Regions from separate parts of the Homo sapiens genome. Here region 1 is linked to region 2. A link means that fine-mapping ties the variant in region 2 to the expression of a gene that starts in the linked region. Tissue or cell type: whole blood. Region 2 holds a variant in brackets; the other region holds the start of a gene. All regions are shown on one strand. Distances are from middle to middle.

Region 1 (5,148 bases), 81 kb before region 2:
AGATTGTTGTAGAGCATTAAGATCTGATGGAATTTGCCTTGCTAGGTTTTGCACTTTTGGGGACTGTCACCTTGTTCTTTTCAGTATCTCTCTTTTGGAATCAGCACGTCTATCCTATGCCTTTCCCACCACATTGTATTTGGAAGCTGAGAGGAATTTTGCCTCAGGATGAAACAAACTTCAAGTCTCACCCATATCTAATACAGATGAAATTTAGATGACACTTCAGACTTGGAATTAATGCTGGAATGAGTGAAGACATTTGGGCTGCTGGGATGGGGTGGATATATTCTGCACGCGAGAAGTGTGAAAGGAAAATAAATCTTAGGACTCCCAAATCACTAAGCCAAGGAAAAAGTCAAGCTGGGAACAATGTCAGGCAAACCTGTCCCCCATTTTATTCTTTTCTTCTTTTTTTTTTTTTTTTTGAAATAGAGTCTCACTCTGTCGCCCAGGCTGGAGTGCAGTGGCGTGATCTTGGCTCACTGCAACCTCCCCTTCCGAGGTTTAAGCGATCTCCTGCCTCAGCCTCCTGAGTAGCTGGGATTACAGGTGTGCCACCACGCCTGGCTAATTTTTTTTGTATTTTTAGTAGAGACAGGGTTTCGCCACATTGGTCAGACTGGTCTCGAATTCCTGACCTCAGGTGATCTGCCCGCCTTGGCCTCCCAAAGTGCTGGGATTACAGGCCTAAGCCACAATGCCAGGCCACCATCCTATTCTTAAATAAGATAGCTACAAAGAGAAACAGCTACATACCTTCCTCACAATTTTCACACAAGGAAATTCCTTGTGGACAAAGGACAGACAGAATTTAAAGCCATCCCTCTGAGGCTCACCGGAAACAAATGCATATCTGATTGCTTCTTCTGCCCTATTGTTTATGTAAAAATGTAGATTCACTGAGCTAGACTAAATTGTGTATTCAGTGGAAGGTTGATCAAGGACTCAAAAGAATGTAACCTCTTCTGTTTCTTATCTACTTATAACCTGGAAGCACCACCCTTTCTGCAGCTTGGAGTTGTCTTGCCTTACCGGACCGGAAGCAATGTACATCCTACACATATTGATTGATGTCTCATGTCTCCCCAAAATATATAAAAGGAGGCTACACCCCCACCACCCTGGGCACATGTTGGGACCTCCTGAGGCTGTGTCATGAGCACGTTCTTAAGCTTGGCAAAATTAACCTTCTAAATTGACTGAGACCTATCTCAGATATTTCGGGTTCACAGAAAGATACGAATTTTACAGCAGCTGGAGACTAACGGAGTCCCAAACGACATTAATGGCCAGAACCACTTATTTGATTTCCCTCATGGGTGCCCATGAGTAGGGTTTGATAGACCTACCTACCCATCATCTTCAGGAGTGCCTCGCCCTCTCCAACACTTAGCACTTCTCTAGTCAACCTGGGTTTGACTAAAGAGGCTCAGAAAAAGGAACAGATGGACGAGGTTTGAGGCTGGGATTCTACAACGAGGCTTTGCTAAAACTTGCTGAGGGATCTTAGGCAAGTCATTTCTCTCTCATTATCAGTTTCTCCACCTGGAAAATAAGGTGTGTTGCATCAGGCTCTGGAGTTATACGGATGTGGGTTTGAATCTAGGCACTGACATTAGCTGTGTAATCTTGGGCAAGTGGTTTAGCCTCTCAGGTTTGATTTCCTCATTTCTAAAACAGGGATAGTACTAGTACCTACCCCATGGGATTACTGGGCTAATGAAAAGAGATAATGTATGCAGAGTCCCTGGCTCATAAAAGTTATTTTCTCCGATTAATTAAATAAGTGAATATGTGTAAAGTGCTGAAGACAGCGTTTGACACTTAGCGTTTTATCAGTCTTAGCTATCATGATTTTCTTATTCTAGTACATAGAAAGTCCTCAATAAGTAACAGTAGTTATTATTATTTTTGGTCACATGTCCCTGTGTTTCCCTCCAAAACCCTAACCATCCCCAATTCTGGTTTTCTCCCCGCATGCAGCCCAAGGGTTTTCACGTCCCAGTGCGATTGTCTGGGCTGTTTCCTCCGCCTGATGTTCCATTTCTCCTCCTCCCGATCTCAGATGGCTTCTCCTCTGGGATTCCTCTGGTCTTCATCACTCCCTCCTCCCAGGCAGAAGGAATGGCTCCTGGATTTGTGTCCTGCTTAAAAAAAAAAAAAAAAAAAAAAAAAAAAAAAAAAAAAGAAGTCCATATAGCACTTAGTTCTTTGTGCCTGGCGGTTGGGTTAACTCTTTCTGAGCCTGTCTCCGAGAGTGGCGGCCCCCGGGGGACGGCGCTGGGTGAATCACCTCTGAGTGTCACCCAAGGCGTCTGGCACAGTGCGGGACAGTAAACGGGCCGCTGTGCGGAGAGGGGTCCAGTTTAACTCCTAGAAGCCCGAGTCCCCGACCCTCTACAGGCCGCGTCCACCACAAATCCCTCCTCCTGGGGGGCTCGGATTCTCCCTTCCCCGCGGTCTCCCTCACCTGAGCCAGCCCCGCTCCCCCGAGTCTCGCCAGCTCCTCCCCGGCCCCTCCCTCCAGCCCCCTCCGGGCTGGAGCCTCCCCTCCTCCATCCCCTGGCGGAGGCCCGCGGGGCTGGAGGCGGAGCGTCTCGGCAGAGGGCTGGGAGCCGGGTGGGGAGGCGCGGGGCGAGCCGGGGGGTTCCAGACGCGCCTCCACCGCCGGGCAGTGGGCAGGTATGGCTGAGGGCGTGTGAGCGCCGAGCGCTAAGGGCCGCCGCCACCATGCCAGGGGGCGCAGGCGCCGCCCGGCTCTGCTTGCTGGCGTTTGCCCTGCAGCCCCTCCGGCCGCGGGCGGCGCGGGAGCCTGGATGGACAAGTAAGTGGCCAGGCGCGGGGGGATGGAGGCTGGGTGGCCCGGAGACCTGGGAGTAGCCTTGCGGGTCCGGAGCGCTGGGACCGCGACCCCTGCGCCTCCCGCAACTCCGCGGGGCCTGCGCCCCCGCCGTCCCCAGCCTGGGAGCCCGGGCTTTGTTCCCACGTTCTGCGCCCTGGGAGGTGGCAGAGGTCGGGGAAACCCGGCGCAGCCAGAAAACAGCCGGTCCGCTCACTGGCTAGCCTTCCCTTCTCGCCTTCTCCTTCCTCTGTTTTTCTGCTTTTGGCTTCTCTTTCCGCCGTTCTCGGGGCTTATCCTCCTCCGTTTTCTCACGGTCCCTCGTGTCCGCTCCGCCTCTCTCTCTGTCTTTCTCTCTACCGCCCGCTGCACTCGCCAACGCCGAGCATCCCGAGCGCCCTGCCCGTGTGGCCTGGGAGCGGCTTCCTGGGACCAGGCTCGGTGCCTGCCACACTGGTGGGGTAGGACATAAAATGCCCGCGGCAGACTGTGGTAGCCTTGGCTAGGGGATGGCTCGCTGGGTATCTGCAGCCACACACTTCGGATCCCCGAGCTGGCAGGAGCCCTACTGAAGGCCAAGTCAAACGCACCCATTTCACAGATGGGGAAACCGAGGCCCACAAAAGGGAAAGGACTTGCCCAAGGCCACGCCACGGGTTGAGGTCCGCGGTGGCACTGGAAACCAGGGCTCTCTTTCCACGCCAACCCGACGGCCGCCTTCTTTGGTCCTCAGTTTCCCCTTCTGTGAAGCGAAGGGGTCTGACTCGATGTTTCCAGCTAAGATGCCGGGTGATGTCCGTGTTTCTCAGGACTAGTTTCCCAGACACCAATCCCCTCCCCGGCTCCATCCCTCGGGGGCTATAAGCAGATTTCGCGGAAGGCTTGGTCCCGGGGGGCGGTGCCCGGGTTCTCTCATTATGACCGGAGAAGGCTTAGCCCTGGCTCCACCGCTGCAGACGGGCTGGGCTGACTCCAGACTGCTGCTTGGGGGACCAACAGTCAGCGTTTTCAAATAGAGCGAGCACCGGCGGAGCGAGGGTGGGCTGGCTGGACCCCCGGGCCGCCTCAAACCCAGAGGCTGAGAGCTCTTCCGACAGTTCGGAACTTCCAGGGGCCGAGGTCGGGCGGTCCTCCCAAAGGGCTCAAAGGAACCGCCCTTTGAGCTGTTGTTCCGAAGGGGAAACTGAGGCACAGAGGAGGTTCTAGGGTAGCACCAGGCCTGTGTCAGTGCTTAGTGCAGGAGAAAAGCATGAAGAAAGACAAGGAAAGCTAGTTACTGCTCCTAGCACAGGCGCCTTCTCTGAGTTTTGAGTCCTTGGAGAACACTTGCTGTAGAATATCTGGGAAATAACGAAAAGTGTAAAAGAAAATGATCTGCAACCCCCAAATCCACAGTTGCTGTTGATATTTTGTTTTTTTTCCCCTCCACATTCTTTGTGTGTTCCTATGGATATATATTGATAAAATTGGAACCATACCCATAAGTACAGTTTCGTGTCTTGCGTTTTTCACTTCACACCATGAGCGTTTTCCACATCATCAAATTCTCTGTAAAACATGATTTTAATGACTCTATACAAAGTTTTCAAAAGTTAAAAACACGACTCATACAAATGTGGCCAAGATTTATTCAACTCATTAATGAGGTAGCAAACAGGAGAGTAAAGCTGATTCAGGGAGCATTAGAAAGGGGTGATACAAGCATTGGAGAAAGAATGTTGAAATCATGTGGCCCAGGGCAGATGCAGAAATGGTGGATGCCCCATGAAGCAAACCATAATTCTTGGTTATCTTTCTTTTTTAATTTCCTTCCTTCATTCCTTCTTTTCTTTCTTTTTTTTTTTTTCAGAGTCTCTATCTGTTGCCCAGGCTGGCATGCAGTGGCACGATCTGGGCTCACTGCAGTCTCTGCTTCCTGGGTTCAAGCTATTCTCCTGCCTCAGCCTCCTGAGTAGCTGGGCTTATTGGCATGTGCCACCACACCCGGCTAGTTTTTGTATTTTTAGTAGAGACGGGGTTTCACCATGTTGGCCAGGCTAGTCTCAAATTCCTGACCTCAGGTGATCCGCCCGCCTCGGCCTCCTAAAGTGCTAGGATTACAGGCGTGAGCCATTGTGCCTGGCCAGGTTATCTTTTTACTATGCTGAAATCACTTACATCTCTGTCAGACAGAATTCTATAGATATATATAGATTATATAACTTCACAGAGTGTAGCTTTTAATCAATGGTAAATAAAAAGTCAATGGTACATTCCCCTAGATAATGCAGTAATCCATGGGTGAGTCTGTTAAACAATGCTCTGAT
Region 2 (5,148 bases):
TGGGCTAATGAGGTCATGTAAAAAGTGCTGTGAAATCATGGTAATGGAAAATTCTGTTCTATGAGAGTGATCCTTATGAGCCCTTGGGCAACAGGGTTGAGGGTGGGGAGGAGATTGACTGTGTTTTCCTCTCATTCCTTGGCTCAGCTGTTGGCTCCTGGGACCCTGTGCCGCGAGCAGGCCAGGCAGTGTGACCTCCCGGAGTTCTGTACGGGCAAGTCTCCCCACTGCCCTACCAACTTCTACCAGATGGATGGTACCCCCTGTGAGGGCGGCCAGGCCTACTGCTACAACGGCATGTGCCTCACCTACCAGGAGCAGTGCCAGCAGCTGTGGGGACCCGGTAAGGCTCTCCTGGGGAGCACGGCTCTCCCCAGCCCACCACTTCCCAGCCAGCCTCCCCTGGCCCTCAGGGTAGTTTGGAATCTTGGCTTCAAATGGCACCTCTAGATACTACCTCTTTCATCCCCTTGACTCAGGGTAGATGTTCAGGGAGAACCAGAGGACAGTGTTCCTTCCCAGTCCCTTGATGCTTTTATTTCTCAGAGTGGACAATTGAATAAGAGTAATCCAAAAGAAAAATGAGCAGAGGATGGAGACAGAGAAGCAAATGCAAATGGCCCTTAAGCTATGAAAAGACGTTTAATCTCAGTCATATTAAGGGAAAGCAAAGTATAATTATGATGAGGTGAGATTTTTCATATATCAGATTGCAAAGACTGAAAGTTAAGATAATAATAATATAACAACAATAATAATGATATAGTGTTGTGGAGGGTGTGAAGAAACAGGTAGATATAACCACTATGGAAAGCAATTTGGAGATATACTTAGAAATGCAGCTAACACTTGCACATGTATGTGAGGATATATTTACTATGATGTTTACTGCACCATTGTTAGCCATAGCAACAACAACCTATGTGTCCTTCAGTAGGGACCAATTAAATTAATTCTGGTACATTCATATAATGCAATGCTTTATGGCTAAATAAGGAGGCAGCCCTATATTTACTGAATAAAATCATCTTCCACAAAAAATTAAGTGAAAAATGCAAGGTGTAGAACAGCAAATAAAATATGCTTTCAAGCCAGATTTGGTGGCTTGCACCTGTAATCCTAGCTACTCAGGTGGCTGATATGGTGGCTTGCACCTGTAATCCTAGCTACTCAGGAGGCTGAGGTGGGGGGATGGCTTGAGCCCAGGAGTTTGAGGCTGCAGTGAGCCACTCCACTCTAGGACTCCAGCCCAAGCGACAGAGGGATGTACCATCTCAAAAAAAAAAAAAAAAAAAAAAAAAAAGACTGGGCACAGTGGCTCACGCCTGTAATCCCAGTACTTTGGGAGGCCAAGGCAGGTGGATCACCTGAGGTCAGGAGTTCAAGACCAGCCTGGCCAACATGGTGAAACCCTGTAACTGCTAAAAATACAAAAATTAGCCAGGCGTGGTGGTGGACGCCTGTAATTCCAGCTACTCGAGAGGCTAAGACAGGAGAATCTCTTGAAACTGGGAGGCAGAGGTTGCAGTGAGCTGAGATTGTGCCACTGCATTCCAGCCTGGGTGACAGAGCAAGACTCTGTCTCAAAAAAAATAAAAAAAGAATATGCTTCCATTCTTTATTAGATAGATTATCTCTAGAAGATACACACAGAATTATACCTAGGAGATACAGAAATTAGAGATTTAAGTATCTTTAGAAAATATACTGTTAATAAGTGCTATTCCTCCAGGATGTAGAGAAGTAGGAACTGGATGACTACAAGAAAAATTTTCCAAGACATACTTATATCTTTAAAATATTATGCATGTATGACCTATTTTTTAAAATCTTGAATCGGAACATGGCTTCTTCATTAGAGAGCAGGCTTAGCATGCAACCCTCCCCACACACAAATATAAATCCTCAATAAGGTAGGAAGAATTTACATAAAACAGGCCAGGTGTGGTGGCTCACGCCTGTAATCCCAGCACTTTGGGAGGCCGAGGCGGGGGGATCATGAGGTCAGGACTTCAAGACCAGCCTGGCCAAGATGGTGAAACCCCATTTCTACAAAAAAAATAAATAAATAAATACAAAAATTAGCCAGTCATGGTGGTGGGTGCTTGTCATCCCAGCTACTCGGGAGGCTGAGGTAGAGAATTGCTTGAACCCAAGAGGCGGAGGATGCAATGAGCCGTGATTGTGCCACTGTATTACAGCTTGGGTGACAGAGCGAGAATCCATCTGAAAGAAAAAAAAAAGGATTTATATAAAACATTATTCTCTGAGTAGATCTTGTTGAGAATATGGGGATGGAGTAACCTGGAGGGAACAGGAAGAAGAGGCTGAGTATTCCCTCCCAGAAAATATTCTTACCTTCATGACTTTACCAAAGATACCTTTGCCCTTGGGGGCTTCTGACAGATGAGTATACTGATAGATGTTGCTTGCCCACCCAGGAGCCCGACCTGCCCCTGACCTCTGCTTCGAGAAGGTGAATGTGGCAGGAGACACCTTTGGAAACTGTGGAAAGGACATGAATGGTGAACACAGGAAGTGCAACATGAGGTGATGACCAAAGGGCAGGCCTCATGAAATGAGGATGAACAAG[C/T]AGTTTCTGCTCTGTCCTCACTGTTGCCCAACTCAGCAGTGTGACTGGCCCCAGAGCTGCACCTTTACGTCAATCAGTTGAAGTCAGTCATCTATTCTCGGCCCCCTGTTTGACAATGCACTTTTCAGCTCTGAGGAAGTCAGAGGAGGGTGTGGGTGGCAGTGCTTCCTAGAAAGCTGATCGGGCTTCCTTTGGGGACCATCTTACAGTAGGGCAGGGAATCAGCCCTTTTGGGTCATTTCTGCCAAATTCTAATCATGCCCTAATTTGAATAGCTCCTCATTCATTAATTCACTCATTCATTCATTTATTCATCATTCATTCCAACCAACCATCCACTCATCTGTCTACCCATCCATCCATCCATCCATCCATCCATCTATCCATCCATCTACCACCCACTCACCCACTGATCCATCCATCTATCCATCCTCCACCACCCACTCACCCACTCATCCATCCATCCATCCATCCATCTGTCCGTCCATCTATCCATCTACTATCTATTGAAGATTTACTGTCTATCTACTATCTATTGAAGATTTACCATGTGCAAGATATTGTGCTGAGTGCATGGAACTTCTAATTAACAATATAGTATGACAATGGCAATGTGGAGAGAGCCATCCAACCCATCTTAGTGTGTCAGAGTGGTTTCCCAAAGGAAGTTATACCTACACTGAGATCTGGAGCAGTTACCTCGGTGAACAGGGTGGAAGGTGGTGCTGGTGCATAGGAGAGTAATCCAGGAAGAGAGATGAATAGAGAAAAACTGGTGGTTGAAAGAACTGAGAACAGTTTGATACAGTTAAAGTATAATGTTGGGGTGCAAAGGAGAAGGTCTGCTGAGAAATTAGCCTGGATAGTTTAGCATGGACCAGATCATGAAAAGCCTCAAATGCATGGCTAGGGGAGTTTAGATTTTAGCTTGAGAGCAGTGTGAAAATTAGACTCCTATGAGGCAGACTGGAGGCAGGGAAATCAATCTTCTGCAGACCAGGTAAGGGGGGTGGGGCAGTGTGAATTAAGGTAGATAGATAATAAGATAGATAATTAAGGAGGGAAGATTGATAGGGTTTGAAAATGGCTTGAGCCCAGGAGTGAGGGAGAATGGGGAGTTGGAGATGACCCCAGATTTCTAGCTGGAACTCCTGGGTGGACAGCGGTATAAGGGGCAAAAAGGGAAAGATTGCTCAGCTCAGGTGGCTATTCTTGGAGTTAAGGACTTTTCGAGGCCAGTTCTCTGGTCTAGATTTGCTCAGGGTCAAGGAGCCTGTTCTCTTCCCTTGGTGTCAGTCCACATGGAATCTCTCCTGGTGGGTTCCAAAGCACATGACTGCCCTAAACCTTTGCCCCACCCCACGCAAGCCTGCTGTCTTGATCAAGAAAGACTGAAGCTCTCTGGTGCCCCAGCTCTTCCTCTGCCTCTGATTCCGCTTCCTTCCCTCTCTGTCTCTTGTGCCCAGAGATGCGAAGTGTGGGAAGATCCAGTGTCAGAGCTCTGAGGCCCGGCCCCTGGAGTCCAACGCGGTGCCCATTGACACCACTATCATCATGAATGGGAGGCAGATCCAGTGCCGGGGCACCCACGTCTACCGAGGTCCTGAGGAGGAGGGTGACATGCTGGACCCAGGGCTGGTGATGACTGGAACCAAGTGTGGCTACAACCATGTGAGTCCCCTCCCCTGCTCACCTAGGAGCCAGCTGCAGAGCAGAGTGATTGAGAAGTGAGGTCTGAGGGAAGGATGCCTGGGCTCAGATGCCACCTCGCCAACCTCTGAGCCTTGGTGGCTCCCTTCATGAAGCGTGTATAGTGACAGCAGGCACCCACCCCAGAGAACTGTCGGAAGGATTAAAGAAAATCATCCCAGTAAAGCACTTAGGTGGCCTAGCTAGTGCCACTTTCATCCTCATCGCTAATTATCATAGGAATTAAAAATGGACTAGGAGTTAGGGAAGCCTGAGCAAAATAATAGCACAGACTCTATCCTCCAGAGTCGATTCTGATAATGAAACTATGGAAAACATGAAGCATTTAGCATAGCACCTGGCACAGAGTACTGTCACCATCATTATTTTTAAATATAATGTTAAAATTGATACATATTAATGACAAGTAATTAACATAATCAACATAATAGTCCTTTAATGTGATAACACATAAATAATATTGTATTGTTAAATATGATACTTTAACAATATATTTGTCGTTTTCTCCCTAATCACAAAAGTAATAGCAGAATTTAGTTGGCTGTTGTCCTGTCCTTAGCGTTGTGGGCTGTTTTCCATTTTTCACTTTGATAGTAACCTGAAGTGTGCTGCCTATTTGGGCCCTCATACTTTTTTTCTTTTAAGATGGAGTCTTGCTCTGTCACCCAGGCTGGAATGCAGTGGTACAATCTCGGCTCACTGCAACCTCTGTCTCCCAGGCTCAAGCAATTCTCCTGCCTCAGCTTCCCGAGTAGCTGGGATTACAGACACAGGCCACCAGGCCCAGCTAATTTTTGTATTTTTCGTAGAGATGGAGTTTCACCATGTTGGCCAGGCTGGTCTTG

The links. PIP is the estimated chance that this variant, and not a neighbour inherited with it, causes the effect.
Region 1: it holds the start of ADAM19, and the variant in region 2 is fine-mapped to the expression of ADAM19 in whole blood (INTERVAL, PIP 0.95).

The regions. Positions count from the first base shown.
Region 1 is chr5:157,573,282-157,578,429 of GRCh38, reverse strand. It overlaps ADAM19 (ADAM metallopeptidase domain 19), which reads left to right and starts at 2,655. Exons shown (of 23, transcript NM_033274.5): 1 at 2,655-2,827. The coding sequence starts at 2,734. LOC124901121 (a long non-coding RNA gene) reads right to left here and starts at 3,451. Exons shown (of 2, transcript XR_007059018.1): 1 at 3,060-3,451; 2 at 1,820-2,150. RefSeq lists enhancers at 1-23, 24-640, 641-1,256, 3,114-3,193, 3,430-3,959 and a silencer at 2,504-2,943.
Region 2 is chr5:157,492,089-157,497,236 of GRCh38, reverse strand. ADAM19 (ADAM metallopeptidase domain 19) reads left to right here. Exons shown (of 23, transcript NM_033274.5): 14 at 148-343; 15 at 2,442-2,550; 16 at 4,060-4,264. Among named protein-coding and RNA genes, the nearest start is that of NIPAL4, 34 kb to the right of the region's middle. RefSeq lists an enhancer at 241-742. The variant C/T (reference allele first, on the strand shown) is at 2,594.